2 linked regions of the Homo sapiens genome follow. The protein of the gene in region 1 binds, or shares a complex with, the protein of each later gene. Links are inferred from orthologs where the notes say so. Each region holds a gene or a part of one and is shown in the gene's direction. Other genes may lie near its edges. The genes, in order: CLOCK and BMAL1.

Evidence for each region.
Region 2: the proteins of CLOCK (region 1) and BMAL1 are in contact, whole or in part, in a crystal structure (PDB 4F3L), measured with the Mus musculus proteins. The link is inferred for Homo sapiens from one-to-one orthologs. Residues at the interface, in NP_001276755.1 of Mus musculus: Arg46, Gln49, Phe50, Leu53, Ile54, Glu56, Leu57, Met60, Leu61, Pro62, Lys70, Ser71, Leu74, Gln75, Ser77, Ile78, Phe80, Leu81, Arg82, His84, Lys85, Thr88, Glu95, Ile96, Gln98, Asp99, Trp100, Pro102, Phe104, Leu105; in XP_030097882.1 of Mus musculus: Lys70, Met71, Phe74, Ile75, Glu77, Leu78, Ser80, Leu81, Val82, Asp93, Leu95, Leu98, Arg99, Ala101, Val102, His104, Met105, Lys106, Leu108, Arg109, Gly110, Ala118, Tyr120, Lys121, Pro122, Phe124, Leu125, Asp127, Asp128, Glu129.

Annotation. Positions count from the first base shown.
Region 1 is NC_000004.12:55,540,512-55,552,746, reverse strand, and holds the start of CLOCK (circadian locomoter output cycles protein kaput), read left to right. Parts: upstream 1-5,837; 5' UTR 5,838-5,965; intron 5,966-6,130; exon of another isoform or gene 6,131-7,294; intron 7,295-12,235. UniProt on the Homo sapiens protein: Transcriptional activator which forms a core component of the circadian clock.
Region 2 is NC_000011.10:13,270,663-13,283,105, forward strand, and holds the start of BMAL1 (basic helix-loop-helix ARNT-like protein 1), read left to right. Parts: upstream 1-7,127; 5' UTR 7,128-7,261; intron 7,262-12,443. UniProt on the Homo sapiens protein: Transcriptional activator which forms a core component of the circadian clock.

The DNA of each region.
Region 1 (12,235 bases):
TTCTGTCAGGTGTTTTTCCTCTTGCCAAGTGTTGAACTTATGTGGTCTGAGGGTAGAGAGTTGGAGGTTTTGGCTATGGTAGATCCCTTTTTGTCCAACTTTTATCCTTGGGTGAAGGAGTGGGTATCTGACCCCAAATGTTGGCAGCTGTTTAGAAGTTGAGGTACTTCATGCACTTGTACCCTATTTTAGATTTCAGTCAGCATCTTTTTTACAAGTATTAGCTGTATCTATTAGTGTTACATATTCTTGCTGGTTCTCAAGTATTCAATCACTAGAACGGTATTAGTCACATCATATTTCACTGACTGATTTTAGTTTGCTTCTCTTTTGTACTTTTGAGAGGTGAAGCCAGCTGGGCTTCTGGGTTGGGTGGGGACTTGGAGAATTTTTGTGTCTAGCTAAAGGATTGTAAATGCACTAATCAGCGCTCTGTGTCTAGCTAAAGGATTGTAAATGCACCAGTCAGCACTCTGTAAAAACGCACCAATCAGCATTCTGTGTCTAGCTAAGAAGGATTGTAAACACACCAATCAGCACTCTATGTCTAAAGCACTCTGTGTCTAAAGGATTGTAAACGCACCATCAGCACTCTGTAAAATGGACCAATCAGCATTCTGTAAAATGGACCAATCAGTGCTCTGTAAAATGGACCAATCAGCAGGATGTGGGCGGGGCCAAATAAGGGAATAAAAGCTGGCACCCAATCCAGCAGCAGCAACCTGCTCGGCCCCCCCTTCTACACTGCGGAAGGTTTGTTCTTTCACTCTTAACAATAACTCTTGCTGCTGCTCACTGTTTGGGTCCACACTACCTTTATGAGCTGTAACACTCACTGTGGGGGTCTGCAGCTTCATTCCTGAAGTGAGCGAGACCATGAACCCACCAGGAGGAACAAACTGCGGACACACCACCTTTAAGAGCTGTAACACTCACTGTAAAAGTCTGCGGCTTCACTCCTGAAGTCAGCAAGACCACAAACCCACTGGAAGGAAGAAATTCTGGACACATCTGAACATCTGAAGGAACAAACTCCAGACACACCATCTTTAAGAGCTGTAACACTCACTGCAAGGGTCCATGGTTTCATTCTTGAAGTCAGTGAGACCAGGAACCCACCGGAAGGAATAAATTCCGGACACACTTTCATGCACATTACTAAGGCTACCCCTTGACAATAATCTGCCTACAGTCATAATTTGGGACAAAGATGATTCTAAAAATCATCTTTCTGGCATTTCATTCACTCATTAAATCATTCATTCACCTCAGGCATTGGTGGTTTTGTTTGTTTGAGACAGACTTGCTCTGTCACCCAGGGTGGAGTGCAGCAGCACGATCTGGGCTTACTGCAGCCTCTGCCTCCCAGGTTCAAGTGATTATCCTGCCTCGACTGACTCTTGCTCTGTCACCCAGGCTGGAGTGCAGCAGCACGAACTGGGCTCACTGCAGATACTGCCTCCCAGGTTCAAGTGATTTTCCTGCCTAAGCCTCAGACTATAGACATGCACCACCACACCTGGCGAATTTTTTTGTATTTTTTAGTAGAGACAGGGTTTCACCATGTTGGCCAGGCTGGTCTCAAACTCCTGACCTCAAGTGATCTGCCTGCCTTGGCCTCCCAAAGTGCTGGGATTACAGACTTGAGGTACCACACCCAACCTGGTTTTTATTTTTAAATTTTAATTAATTTATTTTAGTGATGGGGTCTTGCTACATTGCCCAGGCTGTTCCTTAACTCCTGGGCTCAAGCAATCCTCCCGGCTCAGCTGGAACTACATGTACGTGTCACTCTACCCAGCTCACCTGAGGTATTGAAATGGATGCTACACGTATAGTGGCAAAGAAAACACATGGTTCTCGCCCTTCTGGAGTTTATCTTGTGGTGGTAGGGAAAATAGTTAATAAGAAAACAAATATCATATATACATATAACTAATATATACATAATTTAAACTTAAGTATTATGGGGGAAACTGGACACAACAGAAGAGAATAACTTTGGATATTATTGGTGGTGGGGGGGCAGGTGGGGTGTTGGAGGGAGACCTACTTAAATAGGGTAGTTAGATCTTTGAGATGTGATGGTTGAGAAGGAGCCAGCCATGAGAAAAGGTAGGAGGGGTCCAGGCAAGGGCACAGCATGCATGAAAGCCTGAGAGCAGAGATAAATTAGCAAAGAAATGAAAGGCAGTTTCTGGGTTGGAGTGTCACAGGAAAAGGAAAAAAATGGTAAGACATGAGGTTGGAGAGGTAGGGAGGGGCCAGATCAAACAGGTTATTGTGACCATAATTAGGAATTTGTATGTAATGGGAAATGACAAAAGGGGTTTTAGAAGAAAATAATGTGACTTCACTTATATTTTCAAAATAATTTGACTGCTCTGTGGAGAATAGATTGAAAGAAGCATCCAAGATATTTGTGATACAGAAGAAGAGACATCAGGTAGATAAACAGACGTGTGTATAGAGCCCAAGGGAGAAGTGAAGGCTGGAGTTAAAAATCTGTGAGTCATTTCAACTATTCTTAGGGTTCCAACAAGAAATTGTAAAGATTTACAACCACCATCGTCACCACCTAGCCTTTATGTAGCAGTTTAATTTACCTTTGATCATCACAGTTCTCTGAAATGCCTAGTCTTGTAACTTTACAGATAAGTACCTGAAGCTCAGAGGAATTACTTGATTTGCTCACTATCTCTCAGCATGAGTCAGAATTTAAGCCAAGAGTTTTGACCACAAAGTCTATAATACTACCTCAACTATGAGGCAGGGTTTTGTAGTTCCATTTTAAAGGGATTAGAAAGAATATGAGTAACTGAATAAACTATGCAAGCTTTAAAAAAATACTTAACCTTATATTCTCTATTAAGCATATCTTAAAGCTTCCTGTTCTCCAATTCACCTTAAAGTATGGTAGTAAAACTAGGAATGTCAATGAATGGATGAGTTACTATGAAAGAACAGATATGACTTTGTGACTGATGGGACATAGGAGTTAGGGCAAGAATTAGAGCAAAAGAGACATGAAAATTACCCAAAAAGGAACATCATTGACAAGAATAGCCAACATTTCTATGGGATTTCTTATGTACCAGATAAAATTACACACACACAGACACACACACTGTCTCGGTTAAGCTATGAGATAGGATTGTAATTATCCCATTTTAAAGATGACGAAATTAAAGAACAGAGAAATAACTTGCTTAAAGTCATGCAGAATATTAGTGGTGAAGCTATGATTTAAATCCAGGCAGTTAAGATCCTAATTTTGTACTCTTAACCACTATGATACGTTGCCTACCAACTGGGGGAAATCAGTTGACAGAGGAGTTGGAAATACTCAGTTTAAATGATAGCAAGGTTCACAAGAAAGGGTGAACAGAATATCTGAAATTATGTTTAAGGCTATGGAATATAAATTTAGGAGCTATGAAATTATGAGGCAGGATTTTTGTTTTATGGAAATGTGGGATCTGGAAGTTGGAAAAGCTATTGGAAATATCCAATACAGGCTGGGTACAGTGGCTCGCGCCTGTTAATCCCAGCACTTTGGGTGGCTGAGGTGGGTGGATCACTTGAGGCCAGGAGTTCAAGACCAGCCTGGCCAACATGGTGGAACCCCATCTCTACTAAAAATACAAAAATTAGCTGGTGTGGTGGTGGGAGTCTGTAATCACAGCTACTTGGAAGGCTGAGGCACAAGAATTGCTTGAACCCGGGAGGCAGAGGTTTCAGTGAGCTGAGATCATGCCACTGTACTCCAGCTGGGCAACAGAGCAAGACTCTGTCTCAAAAAATCTGTCTCAAAAAAAAGACATATCCAGTACATTTTTTCTTTTCTTGGAGAGAATGTGGGAGAAAGGAGAAGCTGTGAACTGAACCATGGGAAATGTTCAAGCAGTGAGAGAGGACTGAGCAGAAAAACGGGGGATTATCAACAGGTCTTGGTAAATAATTAAATACAGTGAAAGAGGGAGGAGTCAAAGATGGACATGGTTTGATCTTGGTGACTGAGAGGACAATGAAATCATTAAAAAGGGCAAAGGTATTTTGAAGATAATATGTTCTAGATGATGGGGAATATAAGGAGGGATCAGTGTCTCTAGAATAAAATTCAAAAATCCATCCTAGGGAAAGCATTCAAGCCCTCTCTTGTCTGGCTGCAACCTACCTTATCAGTATTAATAACTTTGCCTCCGTCTTGCTACCTACCTCTTGTCAGTCGGGACTCTTGATTACATGTGAAAGAAAACCTCTCACTGGTTTAAGCAATAAAACAGATGCAAGAATTTACTGACTGGTTTAACGAAATTTCCAGAGGAATCTAATCTACATTTGTTTCCAGGCCTCAAACATGTCTTTAGGCCAAACCTGTCTTCAAATCTGCTTTTTTTCCGTGTTGCCTTCTTTCTCAGAATTCACGTGTGGAAAGATGGCTCCAGGTCTCCATTCTCCCAGATTTAAACCCATTGGTAAAGACGTAACACCCTTCTTAGGAACCGTAGTTTGCAACCGAGGATTAAACTCAAATATGCCTTCCCCTTGTGTCCTGCTCAGACCATATGGACTGAGAGTGGATAAATGATAGTTCTTCAAAAGAAATTATCAGAATAGGGAATGAATGCTGAACAGGCAAAAATGTCGACCAAAATATCTTCTGCTATATGATGGGGTAAATTAACAAATCATGTTTTCCCACTCCTGAAAGAAAAATCCTTAGGTGCAGGATCAAGGATCTGAATAAGTGCTTCAGTTTGATGTTCTTTTGCCCAGAGCATACAGCAAGAATTGAAAATGTTTACTGAGGTGACTGTTACTTTAAAGGGAGGATTTTACGGCCAGAAAAGTGCATTTTTTGAAAGAAAAAGATGGCTTTTATTTCAAATCCAAAAGATATTCATTAAAACATAGGAATTACTAGGAATTAAGACTGTAAAGATCTCTTTTCCAGTAGAAGCACTGAAATGTGCTTTCTCATGTGGACCAAATGTGCCTTAACGCATCAAGATAAGTAATTTCCCGAAGATAAGTAGTAGTCACACGTTGTTCCAACGAGGAAATCCATGCAAATTAGGGTCCTGGTTTATTTCTGATGCTTCATTCTCCATCTTCCATTACACTGTCACTTGATTTTTAATAAAAGGGCAAGGGAAAAATCTCCAAATGAGCAAATAAATCCCGACCTCCTTTCGCTTCCCTCCTCTGGCCGAGGGCGCATGCCCTGTCTCCCCAGGCCCACCCACCAAGAAGAAGCAACCCAAGCCGCGCTCCCTCAGGAGATGGGAGAAGATGTTACTGGCGGTCCAGGCGCCTTTGCAACTCTTCTCTCCCAGCACCAGGAGAGGAAACACGAATGATGCCACTGGGGGAAAAAGTCTCCTGCCAACACCCGAAAAATCTAAGCTGGCGTCGGCAGTGTTTTGCTTTGGAAGGGAGAGCGGGTTCCTTTTCTGGCCTCTGGATCCCTCATCCGGCAGGAAGCTCTTCTTCCTCCTCCTAGCCCCCGGCATACGGGGGGAAAGCCAAAGAGCCTCCAGGACCTAAGGCTAGCGCTCTGCCGGCCGGCCGCGCCCTCCACCCGACCAGGCCCCGCCTCCCCGGCTTTCTAGTAACCGGCGCCGTTCCCGGCCGGGGCAGGGAACGGTGCGCCTGCAGAGCCAGATTTCGGCCCAAGGGGCGCGGGAGTCTCTTCGGGCGTCCGGGATCCCCTGGCGCGGCTCCGTGCTGCCTAACGGGGCAAGTCGCATGCGCACCGAGCCGCGCTGGGGAAAGGGAGAGTGAGGGGAGGGGCGAGCGCAGAGCCTCCGCCGGCCGTCTGAGCCCGCGGGGTCGCTGACGACGCATGCGCCGGGAGGGGGCGCAATCACGGACTCGGCTTGCGGCTGCCGGTTTAAAAAAGGAAACCCCGGAGAGCGAGAGCGCGAAGGAAATCTGGCCGCCGCCGCCGCGAGCGCTCCCGGTGAGAGGCGCCCGCCCGGTGGGCCCAGGGCCTGCCGAGTGCCGGTTGGCTTCCTTGGCGGCGCATGCGCGCTCCTGGGCTGGTGGAGGAGGGGAAGGGAAGGGAGGGGGAGGAGGAGCTGGCCACAGGAGCGGCGAATTTTTGGGGGGGTGGGTGGGGGGCGCCACTCACAGCCCCAGGTGCTGCTGGAGGTGGGAGCCGCGGCGCCTCCTGGACACAGGCGGGGTAGTGGTTCCGAGTCACCGCAGCGGGAGACCTGGGTGGGGGAGGGAAGAAGCCGGAGCCGCCGCAAGCCACACGGTGAGGGCGCGGGGAAGGGGAGGGAGCGGGGGGCGGCGTGTGTGGGGCCGGGGGGCGGCGGCCAAGGGTGGGGAAGGCGGGAGCTGAAGCCCAAGTTTGGCGTGTCGTTCTAGTGTGTCTTTTCCCGGGACTTCGGGCCGAGGCCCGCCCTGCCTGAGAGGCCCTCTGGGGCAGCTGGGGTTACCTGCGGGGCAGGGGCGGGAGTGGGGTGCACGGCGGGGCCGGGCGGCTTGAGGGCGCCCGGAGCTGCGGCCGATTCCAGCAGCTGGGAGGCGGGGAAAGACGGGGACCGGGTGCCGAGAGAGCTTTCGCTGGGGACCCGCTAGGCCTTGTGACCCACTTTATTCCTGTCACCACTCGGGCACGTTTGGAGCAGCGCCCAATGGGGCGCCGGGGCGGCCAGCTCCTCCGGGGAACCCCCGCCCTCCCGGCGCCCGGCCCGCGTGCCGCAGTCCGCAGTCCGAACGGCCGCCGTTGCCGGCCGCGGGCTGGTTCCGTTAGTGGTGGTGGTTCCGGGGTTCCGTTCCTAGGCAGCGCGCGGCTATTAGCGTCTGACTCCAGCGACCGCGCGCGGGTTCGAGGGTTGGCGGCGAGGCGCTCGGTTTCTCTTCTTCCGTCCACCCGCGCTTCCCGTTCCCCGTCACCGCCGCTGGCGTTTGTAGATTTCTTTCCGCCAGTGAAGCTGGGTTTTCTGGAGTTGGCTCTGGCGCTCTGGCCCCTGGAGTGTAATTTCCTACACGCAGCGCCGCAGAGTTTATATTCTTTGAAAGTGTTTGTAGCTTTGTAGAGGTCCTCTTGTTGATGGTAGGTGAGCCTAATTCTGCAAGATAAAAGCCTAGTCTCTGACCTGGCAGATGAAAGATCAAATCAGATTGTGGTTTCCTGCTATTAGAATGCCGTGCTATTAGACTTTAAGGCTTTTTAGCCTTCTTTAAAAAATAAAAAAATTTTTACAGTGGAAGAAAAGCACAAGAAGTAAACTTTTACAGTCGTTGATTTGACTATAACGCTGATCCCCCCAAATCAAAGGTAATTTCACTTTGAAGATTGCGTTCTGATTTGTAGCTTTAAGCGATTAGAGAAAATTGTGCAATATTCCCCTCTACCTGTTTGAAAATAAACATTCTTAAAAGGATGTAATTTAGATAATGAATTGCTTTCTCTGAAACTTATCCCTTGGGACACCTCAAATCTGATTGGTTTTCAAAGCTTGGGGGAAGGAAATTAATTCCTGTGATAAGTGGTTGGCTGAACAGAATGTCTTGAAAGGTTAGCCTGTAGCATTAGGAGAAATACCTAATGTAAACGACGAGTTAATGGGTGCAGCACACCAGCGTGGCACATTTATACATATGTGACAAACCTGCACGTTGTGCACATGTACCCTAGAACTTAAAGTATAATAATAAAAAAAGTAAAAAAAAAAAAAGTTAGCCTGAAGAAAGCAGACTGAAAATGTTCTAAAGCTAGGCGTAATCAGTTATGAAAAAAGAATAAGGAAGCTTTCTACGTACTAACATGCAAAGATTGCAAAAATTTGCTATGAAGTGAAAAAAGCAAGGTGTAGCGGTACTTTGTGAATAGTGTGTTACATCTTAAGGGCGAGGTGTAATAATACAAGTTTATGTTTGCTCTTTATATAAAGAAATTATGGGAGGATTTAGAAAACTAACAATAGAGGAGAGGGAGAAATAGTCTGAGGGAATGGTGGGAAATGAGATGTATTATGTGTATGTCTTCATGTTTTCAAATTTTTGTGTGTATTATGGACTCATAAACTGGATTAAACAAAAATCCTCCTCCCCCAAATAATTTGTGTGATTTTTGTTGCCTAATTTATGGTGATTTGAGTCATTTTCAATATGATTGCTTTTCATATTTTTTAGGAAAATCAACTAAAAAGGAAGTTTGGGATACCTTTTATGACTATTTACACTTTAATTTTTAAGATTGCAGAGGTCACAGGCATTTATCTTTTAAAGATGTTTAGTTATATCTTGCCTTGCTAAAATATATGACTGTTTACATTTGGCATTATGGCTGGATTATGCTGCTTTCAGAGTGTAGTTTGTGTTTCCCCCTCCTCTTTTTTTCAGGAGTCATAGATGGGTAAAATTTTACTTAACCCCAAAGTTTCATGACAAACAATTATGAGGAGGATGTGAACATTCCCTTAAAGTGCTAGTAAACTTGATTGTCTAGGTTAGTTTGCTTTTCAGGTTGGGAAACTTTTCTTTCTTTTGAGGAAATCAAACATGAACCCCAGTGAAAGGTAAATTGGGGTGTGTGTGTGTGTGTGTGTGTGTGTGTGTGTGTCTGGTTGTTTCTCATGAAAGTGTACAAAATGAACATTTTTTTAGGACTGGATTGTTGAAAACCTGTTTAATGAGGTTAAGACTGCACAGGCAGCTGTTAGATGAGATATAATTTTGGGAGGGGACCCTCAAACTCCCCCTGGTGACTAATATTGTGTAATGAAAGTAGTGAATAGTGAGTAATGGATTGCAGTTGCTGTGGGCATTTTTGTAATATTACCAGTATTCCTTTTTATTTTGTAGGATAGGATACTTATATTATTTCTGTTTGATATGTAGGTTTTTCTAATAGACTTCTGCAAAGTGTCACTTATTTTTCATTTGAATTCCATGTGGGTCCGTTCAATCTTTTTTAAAAATGGAATTACATTTCAATTTTTTTTTTTTTTGGAGACGGAGTCTTGCTCTGTCACCAGGCCGGAGTGCAGTGGCACGATCTTGGCTCACTGCAACCTCCGGCTCCCAGGTTCAAGAGATTCTCCTGCCTCAGCCTCCCGAGTAGCTGGGACTCTTATTTTTAAAATTACAGAAGTAAATTGATGCTCATAAAAAGTTAATACAGTGTATATATAATAAGTGACAACCCCTTTACATCCACTTCTAGCTCACATTCCTCCCCAGAGGAATCTAGGGAGCACAGCTACTCGTATACCCTTGACTGAAGGGTAACACTGTTAACACCACTGTATGATCTTGTAGATCTTTTTCTGTGCATTTGCAAATATGTTCTTTTCAGCCTTGAAAACGGAATCATCTTGAATGATCATCTGCTTTGCCATTTTGCCTCCAGTATGGGCTCTGTTATTACCTACAGGACAGGGACATGACTTGGAGCCTGTCAGAAAGCTTAACATCTGATATAGACCATAGGTCATACTCATCTTTTCACTAGTGAGGGGCCAATTGTTATGGAGGCATTTGCAGAGTTTGAAGGGAGGTCATACTGATGTGAGTTTTATCTGGTATAGATTTAATTCACTGTAAACTTCGAGCGGCCGAGGTGGGAGAATGGCTTGAGCCCAGGATTTCAGGACCAGCCTGGGCAACATAGTGAGACCTCTTTGCTACAAAATTTTTTTAAAAAAAATTAGCCAGATGGGGTGGTGCACACCGTAGTTTCAGCTAATTGGGAGGCTGAGGTGGAGGGATCACTTGAACCCAGGAGTTCAGCCTTGGTGACAGAGTGACACCCTGTTTTAAACAAAACAAACCCAAAAGGTGCTTGGATTCCATGAATTTTATAGGACTCTTTAGAGTCCAAGTTTTAGGGTTTTCTTTGGCTTTTGACTTGATCGATAGTGTATGGGTTAAACTTTGATTTTTTTTCCTTCTGTACTTGCTTGCAGACTCCTACGAAAGCCTCGTAGATTACACCAGCCTCTTGAGCTCCTCTGAAGTGAACCTAAGCAGACTGTCCTTAACTAAGGGACACTGATACTGACTTGGATAAAATTTAGCTTTTGAAGGGAAAAGGAGAGAAGAGGCTCTTTGGTTTGGCTTTTGCTTAACTGACAACAAACAACTAATATGCACTACCCTCTCCTCCATCCATCCCTCTGGTTCTCTAATAGTTCCAGAGGGTTTGTTTTAAACCAGGTTACAAAGAATTACCAAACCTTAATTCTTTTTAGCTGATGGAGTTTGCAAAAAGTTCAGAGTATTGATCAAGACTATTTACTATGGGAGATACCTAGAAAGATGCAGTATAATTGACCCTGCCTTCAGTGGTTTTGAAATCTAGTATGGTTAAAACAGCATAGACATTAATAATAATAATAATAATAATATTATTATTATTATTATTATTATTATTATTATTATTTGAGACAGAGTCTCTCTCTGTCACCCGGGCTGGAGTGCAGTGGCGTGATCTCAGCTCACTGCAACCTCCGCCTCCTTGGTTCAAGCGATTCTCCTGCCTTAGCCCTCCAAGAGTAGCTGGGATTACAGGTATCTGCCACCACACCCGGCTAATTTTTGTATTTTTAGTAGACAACGGTGTTTCTCCATGTTGGCCGGGCTGGTCTCAAACTGCTGACCTCAGGTGATCCGCCCACCTCGGCCTCCCAAAGTGCTGGGATTACAGGCATGAGCCACCATGCCCAACTGAAAAGCATAGACATTATAACACAAGGTGGAAAATGATAGATTTTATAAGAAAATTACATACAACATTTGTAAGGATGAGCCTATTTCTGGCTGTTTTTTTTTTTTTTGGTGGGGGGAGAGGCATGGGATTTTGAGGGAGAATACGTATCTTAACCTTTTAATTAGTTAAGAAAGGAAACTTAGATCTTAGCTCTTGATAACGTAAGGAGTTGTTATGTTCTTTTAGCAGGCATCTGTGAGACTGATAGCTATTTCAGTAGTTTTTTTTAAGCTTTCCCGCTGGAAAGAACCATTTGATGTTTTATTTGATAATTATAATACAGCCTCTTTAATCATTTCAGGATTGCTAGAAAAATTAGGAAATTAAATCCTATCAGTTAACTGTTGTCTACCATCAAATATGTCAGCCAGTGTTAATATTAAAAGAAAATTGTTTCCTCTTATCTCAATCTTGAAGCATATATATTATGTCACCTCTTCCACACATTTTTACTTCTAGTGCTGTGTCAAATAAAGCATTTATTTACTGTGACTATTTTAATAAAACAATATTGTGGGGGAAAAGTCAAAGTTCTGCACTGTAGCTAAACCTTTTGATGTTTATCTGTTTCCTTATAGTTTTTTACAGATGCATAAAGTAAAATATTTTTTAAGTTCCTTGTAGGCATTACACCAATGGCTGTTGCATTTTCTCCTTTTCTGGATCAAAAATTCTAGATGGAGTTGTATGAATTATTTATAGAACACTCAAGTGTCAGAGCAATATAATTGTTACTAATTGACTATAATTACATAATGGCATTTATATTTACAGGTTGCTTTACAACCATTTATTAAAAGCCCTATTAGGTGTAACTTCTGTGAAACAGGTGGATACCGAGATTCCTGTTTTTTTCCATTTTTTTGATTATGCAAATGTTGAATTATTTAAACTTACTCTTATAGCCTCAACTCTGAGTTATTACTTTAGTTGGATATTTCACAGAGATGTAATTCTGTTAATTTTAAGTCTTAGAAGTCTACAGAAATCACTTGTGAAAAATGAAATTTTATGAATTACTTTGTCTTTTAAAGTATGCTGTTTCGGATATAATTTGCTTTTCATTTTTCAGAAACATTTTCATTTTTTACATTAATAATGACGACGATTAAGTTTCTTTTTCAAAGAGGTCACATTCAGGTACTTAACATTTTTAATTCTCATCCCAAATAGTGGAAAATTGAATGTGAGGGCTATCTGGCTGTGACATGTTACCCCATTGATCCCCAGGGTTGATTCAGCTCATCTGGCTGGCTCGGCAGGTGTCCCCTTCCTCCCTCTCCACTCCACGTGCGTCCCTCCTGAAGCTGAAGCTGCGTGCTTGGTTGAAGAGGACAACCATCCCAAATAGAGGAGGACTGGTCTTGGGTCAAGGGTATACGAGCAGCTGCGCTCCCCTGCTAGAACCTTCGAGCAAGCTCTCAAGGTCCAAATAGTGGAAAATGAAAGTACAGGTTGATTCATGTTGGCAGGTTTTGGTATCAAAAAAAAATTAAAAAGCACACA
Region 2 (12,443 bases), on another chromosome or scaffold:
TATGACTATTTGGAAAGCCAAAATGGCTCGATGTGCTGCACTCTGGAATCTCATTGATTGATTGATTGATTGATTCATTCATTCATTCATTCATTGAACTTTTATTGCACACCTACTACCTGCTGGATTCTATTCTAGATGTGAGAGATATGGCAGTACAAATAACCCTCCTCTCACAGACCTTACGGGGGAAAGCATACAATAAATAAATGAATAGACAACAAAATGTCAGATAGTGATATGTGTTGAAAAGAAAATTCAAGAAGGGTAAAATGTGAAATGCAGAGGCTGCTGTAATATTTCAGAAGGGATGGGAGGTTTTCTCTGATGAGGGGGTAATTGAAGCCAGTGCTTAAATCCTATGTGTATCTCTGGAAGGTGATGTCTTGCGTGTGTCCATGCAAGAAGTACAGCTCACTTTTGCATGTCTTTATCATTTTTTATTAATTTGTTCAGACAATATTTGTTCTCATGAATGTGCTACTGCTTTGATAGCTATGGGAGATATAGAAGTGAAATATGCAGGTGTGGCACCTGCCTCACAGAGTTTATGAGAAGACAAGAAATTACAAGTGTGACAGTGCTTTGAAAAAGGAAGTACAAGGTGCTGTTGTGGTAGATTTTTATAGCTGGGAGGTCAGGGAAGGTTTCCCTGAGGAAGTGACCTTTAAGCAGCGAAGCAAGTGTGAGCCAGATTCATGGGTCAAAGGCAATGGAAGTAAGGGAAATTTACAGGCAGAGGGGATCAGTGTGCAATCTTTCTTTTTCTTTCCTTTCTTTCTTTCTTTCTCTTTCTTTCTCCTTCCTTCTTTCTTTTCCTTCTTTTCTTTCTTTCTTTCTTTCTTTTTCTTTCTTTCTCTCTCTCTCTTCTTTCTTTCTTTCTCTCTCTTTCTTTTTTGGCTGTTGACTTTCACCTTTCTCACCTATCCAAATCTTCCAAGGTCTAAGAAGTAATATCACTTGATTATATTTTCTTGCCCTTCTCTGGTAAATGTGCAAATGTATGATTTTGCAGTAGATGAATAAAAGAAAATGTACATGCAGCACAGGAGTCAAAAACAACAATAATAAAAATACAACCCAAACTAATGGACTTTATTCATACTCAAGATTTAGATGGTTTTATTTACAGTAAGTTTTATTGTCAATCTTTTGTTAGCTGGAGTGCTATCAATTTATGACACAGATTTTGGCTCATAAATTTCCCAAAGACCACTTATCAAGCTATAGTCACTTGTGGTTTTGTATTTAACTCAAGTGCATATAATTTTCCATGTCTTTAAAATAAGTTTTATGGCAGAGAGAGAAGCAGCAGCAGGAGGAGATAACATTGAAACCTTATAAGAAAAAAATATGTAAGTTGTATTTCCTGTCTATACCAGCTGATTCTTTGAAACCCAGTGTGGTAATGAAGTAGAGTAGGAAAGCTGTGGGCCAGTCCCATTAGCCTACAGCTTCCAGAGGGCCCTGAGGTTTAAAAATCCCAAAGGATGTTCTTTTCAAAACTGTTTACAGATGAGCCTCAACTTACGATGGGGTTATGTCCCGAAAAACCCATGGCAAGTCAAAAATATTGAAAGTTGAAAATACATTTAATATCCCAATATGCCAATCATAAACTAGAAAAATCGTAACTCAAACCACTGTGAGCCCAGGGCCATCTGTATAATAAAGAAACATTAGGAACTATGTGAACGCTTTCAATGAGAGAGTTTTGCATGAGGTATAGTTTCTCCATACAATAAAAATGCTGCAGCCATTAGACAGCCAGTTGTAGAAGGAGGCTCAATAACAAGAGAGAATGCATGTGATAATTTTTTAAAAGCAAGATGACAAAACTTTGATGGGATAAAAATTACATCAAAAGAGCTGGGTGTGGTGGCATGCCTATAGTCTCAGCCACTTGGGAGGCTGAGGCATGAGAATTGCTCGAGTCTAGAAGTTCGAGTCCAGCCTGGGCAGCATAGCAAGACTCTGTCTCTGAAAAAGAAAAAAATTAGGTCAAAATAGGATATAGTTACAGAAAAAATACATTGATATTTTAATGTGGGTTATATCCGCTTAATGGAATTATAGATTATTTTTATTTTCTTCTTTATGTGTGTGCTTTCCAAATTTTTGATCACAAATGTAAATTGGTTTCATAATCTAAAAAAAAAGCAATAGATGTTCTTGTTCTTCCAAAGAGAAAGGAGAGATTTGAGTAGCAGTCATTCTTACAATGCACACACATCTGTATGCAGGATGAGAGTTTTCCTTAGGTAAATTCTGAGTCTGTAGCTTTTATATGAGTGGAGCAAAGGACCCAGAGCTCACTGCAGAGGATCTAAACAACCTTTGATGCTGGAGATCGTGCTTGGTGATTATAAACTTTTATTTTTAAAATACCAAACGAGAAAGAGAGGGCCAATGAAGTAAGACAATGTTACAAGGAGTAGCTCTTTATAAGGAGTAATTCTATCAATGACAGGTTAAATGACATCACTGCTTACATCTCACCACGCCAGCTGCTGACTTATTAACTGGAATGTGTATATGGTGCATTAATAATGTGGTGTGGGGCCTGCATGCTAGTTGTTCCTTTATTTCGTTTATATGGAGAGTGTGTGTGTGTGCATGTATGAAATCCACCTTTATTTTCATGGCCTCTGGATTTTGTGTTATGCTTAGATGGGCCTTTTAAGATTATAGAACTTCTACTCATATTTTTTTCTAGTGTTTTTATAGGTTTGACTACATGCACTTAAATTCTCTTTTCCTATGGTTTATGTTTTAATGTAAGTACAGGGTAGGGGGCAAATTTTATGTGTTTCCCTATGGCTAGCTAGTTGTTTCAATAGCATTTATTGAAAAATCCATCTTCTTCCCAATCCTTTAAAATTCACTTTATAACTCAATTTTCCTATACTTTGGGTCTATTTCTGGATGCTATGCCTTTTAATTCGTCTATTGGTCTGTTTCTATACCAATACCAGACTATTTTATTACTATAGTTTAATAGTACACTTTGATAATGTATGAGATCAAATTCCCCAGTCTATCCCTTCTTTCCTTTTTCAAAAGCATATTGTAAATTTTTTTGAGCTAATGCATTTCTGAAATGGCTTGCCTGAACACTTCACTTTGCTATACTAACTAGAATGGATTCTTCCTTTCTTTTATATTCTCCAGAAAGTGAACTCTAGTCTGCTCATCCCAGTGAAGCTGGGCAAAATTGATGCCAGTTTTTTGAAGACAGTGTCTATCTGTTCTTCAGAGCTTCTGTTGAGAAGCCATGTGGCCACTGGTGCTTTAGCTTCCTCTAGCCAAACGGAAAAGCCCCTTTCACATCTGAGCACCAAGATCTTTGGAATCTTGGCCATGTCTGCAAGCAAGATCTAGTCTAAAGCCTAATTACACAGTCTAGGACACATTCCAAATGAGGTATTACTGCTCTCCCATTCTGAGCTGCTATGGCCATCCCATTAAAAAAAGAGCCAAGGAAGGTCTTTTCAAAAGCAGCTGAAAAAGCTATAAACACTGGTTAACTCATTAATGCCTGATTTTTTTTTTAATTCCCATTTTTTGTACACCCAGATGTCAACCTTGGTTAACAGATCAAACCATTCACAAATGTCAAATCCCAAAGAAACGCAATCAGAATCTTCCAGAACAGGACTCTGAAGTCTGTATTTTTTAAAACTCCCCAGGTAATTCTAATGGATCCAATCATTGGATCAGAGTCAGGGAAACTACTGTAGATTATACTACTTTATCCTCACTAACTTCATCTGTAAAACAGGAGCAAGAAATATCTATTTCATAGAATTGTTAAGAGTGATACCTAATATGTATCACATCTTGACTGTATGCCAGGCACTGTGTTAAGGGCTTTCCATCTATCATCACATTGAACTCTTATAACAGCCCTATGAAGTAGACACTAGATTATCCCCCTTTTACAGATGAGGAAACTGAGGTACAAAGAGGTTAAGCAATTTGATAAAAGTCATCCAGCTAGCAAGTGTGGAGGGCAAGCATATCAACTGCTAGGGTTAACGTGAGGATTATATTAAATAATGTATTTAAAGCATCTGGTACACAGTAGGTGCAAATAAATGCTCTCTCTTATCTTCCTTTTATCCACATGATTCTACTCATGCCCAGTAAAATTTACATTGAGGACAATATTTTGACCTTAGCAGTGCCCTATGAATTGAAAGTTCAGTATCCTGGAAAGTAGAAAAGAAAAGGGAAGTTAGGTAGTAGTGGAAGGAGGTGTTTGGGATCTCCAACAGAGAGAACCACAAAGAAAGGTGTAATTACACAGGGAAAAACAGGTGCACATGAGGGAAGACAGTTGCTTGGCCACTGAGGGTAGGATAAGGCAGGGTGATAACCTTTAAAAGAGGAAAGCCAGGGTACAAGATGAGAATCTCAGAGGAAGGGAGTCCACAAAGACACCTATTTCAGCCCGCCTCCCACTGCATGGTAATCCAATTCTCACTTGGACATTTTTTGTGACAAGAAACTCAATTAATCAAGGCAGAGGATGCTCTAGCTGTTAGAAAATTGTTCATATTGATTCATTCTAGAGTTTCTACCCACAGGTTCTCCTTCAACCCCTTAAGGCCCTTAAGTATAAGTTTAATTTCTCTTCTATTTGACAGTTCTTCACATATATCAAGACAGTTACCTTGTACCCCTGGGGCAAAACCTTCTGCTTCCTTTAATATTTCCTCATATGACATAGTTTCTAGCCTCTTTACATCCTGGTCCCTCTACTTGTGCATGTAGATAATTTCTTTCTGCCAAGTCTTAATTGCAGACAATACTTCATGTGGGTACTGACCAACACTGGGCAGCACAATAACACCTATCTTGCTTTACATGTCAGACTTCCACTGATGCAGCCTAAGAGCGTTTATTTATTTTGGCAGCCACAATTCACTGTGGACTCAGATTATTTGTCACCTAAGACCCTTTATCTTGCTCCTGTAAGCATCTAAGACACCTCTGCCTCCGGCTGGCTTCACACAGGGTGGGACTCCACATTTACCCCTGTTAGAGTCAGCCCACTGCTCCAATATTGTATGTGGTTTGTGTAACAGCGTCTCTTCCCCTCCTGGCTTTGTGTCATCTGGACATGTGATGCGAATCTTCTGGATTTTCCTTCAGAACACTGATAAAAGTTCTGATGTCTGGACCTGGGAGAGAGGCTTCTGTCATTCTGAGGGTAACTGGTGTGGTATAGAGGCTTTGAAATAAAAAGAAAAAGTCTAGTTTGAATCACGGCTCTGCCACCTACTGTGTGACCTTTGGCCAGCTAGCTAAATTCTGAGTTTCAGTTTCCCCATCTGTAAAATGGGGCAATAAAAGCTTCCTCACAGTGTGGTTATAAAGATTAAGGGAGAACATGAGGGGAAAGTACTTAGCACAGTGTCTGGTACGTAGTAGGTGCTGCTGGAATGCTGACTCCCTGCAATCTTCTTTTCGGTCAACGTCGACTCATCAATCAGCATCTTTAGGTTATGGTTACTTAACCAGTTATTAGTCCAATTAATGATACTAGCATCCAGCCCATATTTCTTCATCTTGTCTATGATATCTTGTCAAGTGCTTCGCTTAAGTCCCACTTACCTAGAGTGATCTCCTCATGAAATGGGGGCAGAGACAAAGGAGCAATAAGATTCCACCTGCGTGTAAACTTCGGAAAAATAGCAAGCTACCGACGGAATTGCTTGACCTCGAAAACAGTCAGCATTCAGACCACAAGCACATATTGGGCACTCCGTGCCTGTCAATGAGCTGGGGATGGGCAATGGTGTTACAGAGATTAAAAAACGCAGTGTCTGTGTTCAAGGAACTTACCAGGCTAGAAGTCTAGAGTCACGGGGGCCAGTCTGGGTAACAGAATTAGGCCAATTTATTTAATTCCATTTGTTCATGTATCCAGCCAACAGATATTTATGGTGCACTTGTTGGGTGCCAGCCCCGCCCCCACCACTCCACCCTACCCCAGCAGGCGCTAAAGGAGAGCTGACATGATGGATAACGAAAAAGAAGACGCTGTCCTTCTATTCAGGGAGTTTAACATCTGGAAGAGCCGGGAGTTCTTTGTGCTAAAGGCCCTCTACAAAGTGCCTGAGATGCAAAAATAAGTCACTTTCTCTGTCCTCTCAGCAACCGAGTCGCATGTCGTTATCAAATTTTTATTTTCTGTAACTGTTTCCTTCCGTCTTGCTCCGTAGACAGCTTTTTGCAGCAGAGAGCGCTGCCGCGGGGCTGGTGTCTACTCTTCAGTAAGTGGTCAAAACCTGGCTACTGGAAGGAAATGCAATGGAATCGCTCCGCGCTCGAGTATTCTCTTTGGAACTACGGGAATGACAGCTCCAGTGGGACACTTGGAGGTCATGATGAACGCAAAGAACGTGAGAACACTTGCAGTCCTCGGGGTGGAAATGCCTTCTAGAAATACTAAGTATCCGTTCTCTCGTTGAGACTTTGGCAAACCAGGGATTTTAGGAAGGGTCTGGCACTCAACGTTCCTAAAATTGGTTTCCTAGATGGAGCCGGAGGGAGAGAGGGAGTCAGGAACTGCTGCTTTTCGTCGGAATGCCCGGAGGGGAGAAGAAGAAGGAGGAGGGGTGAGGGCGGGCGGCCAAACGCCAGCCGGCAGGGGACCCAGAGAAGAGGGACATCCCGGGCGACCCCGAGGAGCGCGGCTTGGGCACCGCAGTGGCCGCGGCTAGTGGGAGACCTGAGGGGAAAGGGAGAGGGCAGGGGCGAGGAACCCAGGGAGCGCGCGCGGATTGGTCCTCTCCTCGGGGCGTGCGCTCCTGTGCGCCAAATGATTGGTGGCAGGAAAGTAGCAGGTAAACCGGCTCCCGCCGCCTCGCCATTGGTCAGCGGCCTCTCTAGCCGCCACACAACTGGCCAGCGGGCTGCCGAGCCGCGCGCGGATTGGCTGGGGGCGGCCGCCGGGACCGGCTCCCTTCGGGCGTTCGGATTGGCTGGCGGGAAGAGGCAGGTATCCGGGCGCTGCGGCTCCTCCATTGGTGGGCGGGGAAGGGGGGTTGGGCACAGCGATTGGTGGGCGGGGGGCCGGGCCTGGGCCGGCGGGGAGCGGATTGGTCGGAAAGTAGGTTAGTGGTGCGACATTTAGGGAAGGCAGAAAGTAGGTCAGGGACGGAGGTGCCTGTTTACCCGCGCCGGACTCACCGCCGCCGCCGCCGCGGGATCCGAGTGCGGGCGCGGGCGCGGGCGCTCCCGGCGAGCCACGGTGAGTGTCAGGCCGGCGGCGGCCAGCGACGCGATCCCGCGCACCCCGTCGGGGGCCGTTAGCACCCTCGCGGGCGCTGCGCCCCTGCCGCCGCCCCGGGGGCAACCCGGCCGCCGAAGAACCCTGCCCGACGTGCCCGCTGCCGGCCTTAAAGGGCCCGTGACCGCTCCCTGCCCCCACCCGGGCCGTGGGGAGGCTGCGCCCCTTAAAGGCGCCGCGCCCGTCCGCCCCCATCCTCCTCGCGGGGGCTGCCGCTGCGGGCTAGGGCAGGCAGAGGTGCTGCAGGAGCCCTTAAAGGGGCCGGGAAAGTGTTCGCTGGAGTACCCACCGCCCTTCCGCGGGCATCGCTACCTGGCGGGGGGAGGGGGCAGCTAGCTGCCTCTTAAAGGGATAGCTCTGCCCTTGGGGGCAGTGACTCGGCCGAAGAGGACTCCTAGATGTGTCCCCGGGAGCTTCGGGGATCCCCGAGGGGACCATGCCTGGTGGCTGCCCCTCAAGGGCGTTGGGCGAACGGTGCCGCGTCTGCCCTTCCTCCCCGCTTCACTTCCCTTTCGGGAGCCCGCGAGGCTGGGTGGGGGCGGGGAGGGCGTCTCCGTCGGGCTTGGGGAGTCCAAGTCCGCCCGCCCCTTCGGCCCTGTAGCCAGGGCTGGCGCTGCACCCGGGAATCCCCGGCCGGCACGGGGCCGACCCCAGCCTGCGAACTTTCGTGGGGCCTGTGCCGTCCAGGTCCTGGGCGGCCCTCAAGGATGCCCCGTGGGTCTGCGGGCAGGTGCGCGTCGGCCTGGGGATGTCGCCCGGAGCCCGGGTGCGGGCCGGCCTTGGAGTCCCAGAGCTCCGCGGAGGGCGCAGCGAGCCTGGCTCCAGCTCCGGGTTTGACAGATGTCAGGGAAGAAAAGGTTCCCGCTCGGCTATTGCCGGGCGTTGACATCCCAGAGAGCTTCCCGTTTGCTTGGAAGAAGACGAGGAAGGTAGAGGTGAACGTCGACCTTGTGGGGCGCATGTTAGCCTCCCCGAGGGGTCGCGAGAGCCGGCAGCGGGGTGAGCTCAGGTGCCCGCCGGCAGGAGCTGGGGAGGGAAGGGGAGTGCTGGACACCGGCGCCTGCTGTCAAGTTCTCGCCGGCCGGTGAGAGACCCGCTGCCGCCGCGCACCCCGCACCTCCTGACCCCTCTCCCCTCTCCGCCTCGGCCCCTTCCCGGTCACCTAGCGTTGTTTTGGCGCTTTGGCGCTTGCGGTCTCTTCCTTCTTCCACCGCTACTCCTCAGCGAGGAATTATTAGCCAAGTTTTCTCACCCAGCTTCCAAAAATCAGATTCCGTATTTGTGAACAAGCTTTTCTTGACACTACCCGTATACCCGTATTTCCAGCATCGTCGTTTTATTAAACATCCATAAAAGCTGCCCCTTAGATGCATTCATTTCCCACGACACCTGCTTGCTTGTCATTTGTCCTTCTGACATCTGCTGTTGTTCACCCCTTTAATCTATTATTAAATGACAACTATTATTTTAATTCTTCTGGTCTCATTGATATCCGGATCTGTGAATTTGGGTTGGTGGAGTTTTTAATTAATGTACCCGTTGAATCATGAGCTTAAAATAATCATTGCTGCTCCTGAGCAGTTTTGAATAATATCATGCTCTCTCTGCTTGCAAGACTTAAAAAAATTCGCTGGTGTTATATTTGATTTCCATATCAATGGAATTCCCAAATATTTTTGAAAATACAAAATTCAGTCTTTCAGTCCATGTTTTGTTACTCAGATCATTTTACTGATAAGTCTTTAACGCAGCTTATAGAACATATTTAGAAGGTTTGGAAATTTCCTGGACAGGATTTGAAATTGCCTGTATCATCTGAAGCTGGTTCTGTAGAAGCATTTTGGTTTTGATTGTAGATGCAGCCAGTGAATGATAACAATAAGTTAAAACTGTAGTTAAATTTGTTCTTTATTCAACCCTCTGAAGAACGAACAGATCTGGTAGAAAAGCACTAACCTGGGAGTTAGGAGCTGGACATCCTGGTTCTAGTTTAGGCTTGGGCTCTCATGGCCGTTCCAGTCGGGGCAAGTTATTAAAGATTTCTAGGTTGTGTTTGCCTCTGATGGAAAGTAAGACGGTTGAACTAGGTGATCTCAAAGGTTCCTCTCTTTTGAAGTTCTGTAAGTCTCTAAATATTTAATACATTTGAATTCAGGTTGGTATTTACCTCCTGGCACCTCCAGAATATCTGAGCTGAAGCCCTATTTTCATAAGAAAGTTAAGCAGATCAACAGATGGTGTTTTGAAGAATCCATTTCAAATGATTTATAAAATGATGACTACTTACGAGTTTGTCTGCTATTTGCAGAAGAGGTTTGCATGCCACAGGGCAGGAAAAGGAAGTGGCCATGTTTTCAGATTTATCCCTTCACACCAACAATCTCTGTGGAATTTATATGCTAAAAGATGGAGAAGCACCATAGAAAGATTTGGCTGTATTAACAAAACTGCATATGAAAAGGTAAAAACTAGATAGTTAATATCTCTCTTTGGTGTAAGGGTTATAATGTATCTGAGCTTTCTTTGTGATTTCATCATCAACTCTCACTGTGGTAGGAAAATCAATATTAAATAAACAGTTTCAGCCCCGTGATTACATGCAGTGATTTTAGGAAGCATCATGATAACTAAAGTAGGTACTTGCAGGGAAGTAAAATATCCTTTCTAGACCTTGAGGTTTCGTTGGGAGCTAGGGACACAGGCATGTTATCCTTCTCCACAGTCTTTTTTCATTGTCACCTTATCACAAGACTCAGATTTATCCCAAATACCCACCTTGTCTTTTCTTCTCCCTCTCATGAAATAAGACCTGCTCTGACTCAACCCCCTCAGCATCTCTTACTTCCCACCCAAAATGTCCTGTCTCTATCCCCATCGTCCCCTCATCTCCTCCCAATTCAGAGAAAGCAAGTGGACCTCTCCTCTGTTCCTTTTCTTGGCCTCTCACCATGGGCAAGTGCCTGGGCTCTGGTGGCAGAAGAATCCATGGCTCAGGTTTGGGCTTTGTGGTCTTGGATGTGTGCTTGACTCCTCTGACCTCAGGTTTCTCCTCTTGGTGTAATGGCAGTGCCTGCCTCGTGGAGTCTGTGTGAGGATTAAGGGAGATGGTGCATGTAAAAGGCCTGGCACACAGGAAGCCTTTCCTTTGTGCCAGCTGCCATTCCTTCTCACCTCTACCCGGGTCCTATCACTAGAATATTATTTGTGCTGTTTGTCCTTAGTCTCCCCTGCCCCACCCTGAAAACCTTAGGCTTGACTTAGGAGAGGAAGGATGGAAGAGGCAGAGTCAGACTTGTGGTGAGCCTGCTGTGTACCAGGCAATTTACATGTGTCTTTACTTGGTACCCTGGGTTCGTAAGCCTCTCTTTCCTCCCTCCTGCCAGCCTCCCCCACTCTCCCATCTCCTGCTCCATTCTTAGTACCTGCCCTCTGGCTTCTCTCGCTACCACCTTTCTTTATATTTCTTCTCAAAGTTTTCTCCAAAACTTTGTCGTGAGTTCCTGGGGCCCATCTGCCCATCCTTATTCCTGAGTGGTTGTTCTTGGCCCCTTTGCAGTATTTCTTTTATTTTTTTAAACATGGTCTCAGTCTTGCCTGGTTGGAGTGCAGTGGTGCAATCGTGGCTCACTGCAGCCTCCCAAGTCTCAGGTAATCCTCCTGCCTCAGCCTCCAGAGTAGCTGAGCCTACAGACACGTGCCATCACACCTGGCTCATTTTTGTATTTTTATTAGAGATGGAGTTTTGCCATGTTGCCCAGGCTGGTCTCAAACTCCTGGGCTCAAGTGACCCACCTGCACTGGCCTCCCAAAGTGCTGGGATTACAGGCGTGAGTCACTGTGCTCAGCCCCTTTGAAGCTTTTACCTCACTTGTTTTTTGTCCTTTGAAATCCTTTCCTCTCTCAGCCTTTGGGTCATGCTGGTTTCTTGATTCTCTTCCTGCACCCCTGTAAAGATAAATGTCTGTCCTAGCTTCTGCTATTCACACTGTCCGTGGCCTGGGGTCCCCTCTCTAGCCCTGACCTGTCTCTCCTGTGTTCTGCTAGCAGGTCCGTTGTGGACATGAATGGCAGCCTGTAATCTGCATTTGTGGTCTCGGAGTTACAGGTTTGCAGACTGCTTGCAAGCACTGTCACATTGAGTCCTCATGACACACTGGAGCCTACATCCCTTCATTCCCCAGGCTGTCCTAAAAGGCAGTTTGGTTGGGTAGTTTAGCATACAGACTCTGGAGCCAGATTTCACATCCTAAGTATTCCCTACTGGCTTCGTGACTTGTGGTCAATTTTCTTTTGCTCTCTATGCCTTGGTGTCCTCATCTATAAAACTGGGATCATAGTAGCCCCTACATCAGAGAGTTGAGGTGTGGATTAAATGAGTTAAAGCATTGGAAAAAGTGTGCCAGTCTATTCATGGCACATTGCAAACACTCAGTGAATGTTGCTGTCAGTCTTGCTGCTCTTCGTTGCCTTGCCGGGGTGCCTTGGCCTGGTTTGTAGTGGTCTCCACATTCAGCCTGCCTGTCTGCCAGACCTTGCCATGTGCCTGGACACTGTAGTCAAGCTGAGGGGCTGTCCATTCCCTGTACCAGCCCTTGGCCCAGTCCATCCCTCAATTTTCACGTGTCCAAATCCTCCTCTGCTTTTAGGACCCAGGGCCTTGGTCCTGCAGCACTATTTCTTCATTTTGTTTTCCTTCCTCCCCACACCTGGCAGCAATGTCCACATTGATTTTTCTCCAATTCTCTTAGGTTCTGCTGCATTCCATATTGTGTTGGGCTGTCTCTGAAAATATCTCACCTGCTCGCTCAGCCTGAGCATTCTGGGAGAAGTTTATCTTGCTTTTTCCAAAATGACAGGCACAGGGAGCCTTTAGGCCATGGTTGTCCAATGCACATTGATCTTGTGGAGGAGGAGATGGGATGGGGTGGGCACTCAGGGACGGAGCAGGTGGAGGGAACAGGATGCACACTGCATAGAGGTGGGGGTGCAACAGGGCCATAAGTGGACATGGCCGTAAGTACTTAGGTCTGCATGGAAGGAGGGTTTGAATTGGGGACTTAACCTCAGGGGGAGATAAGATTGGATAAGGTTTAGTCATCTTTGCTGCAGGGGAACGTTGAGTACTGGCATGTAATGGAGAGTG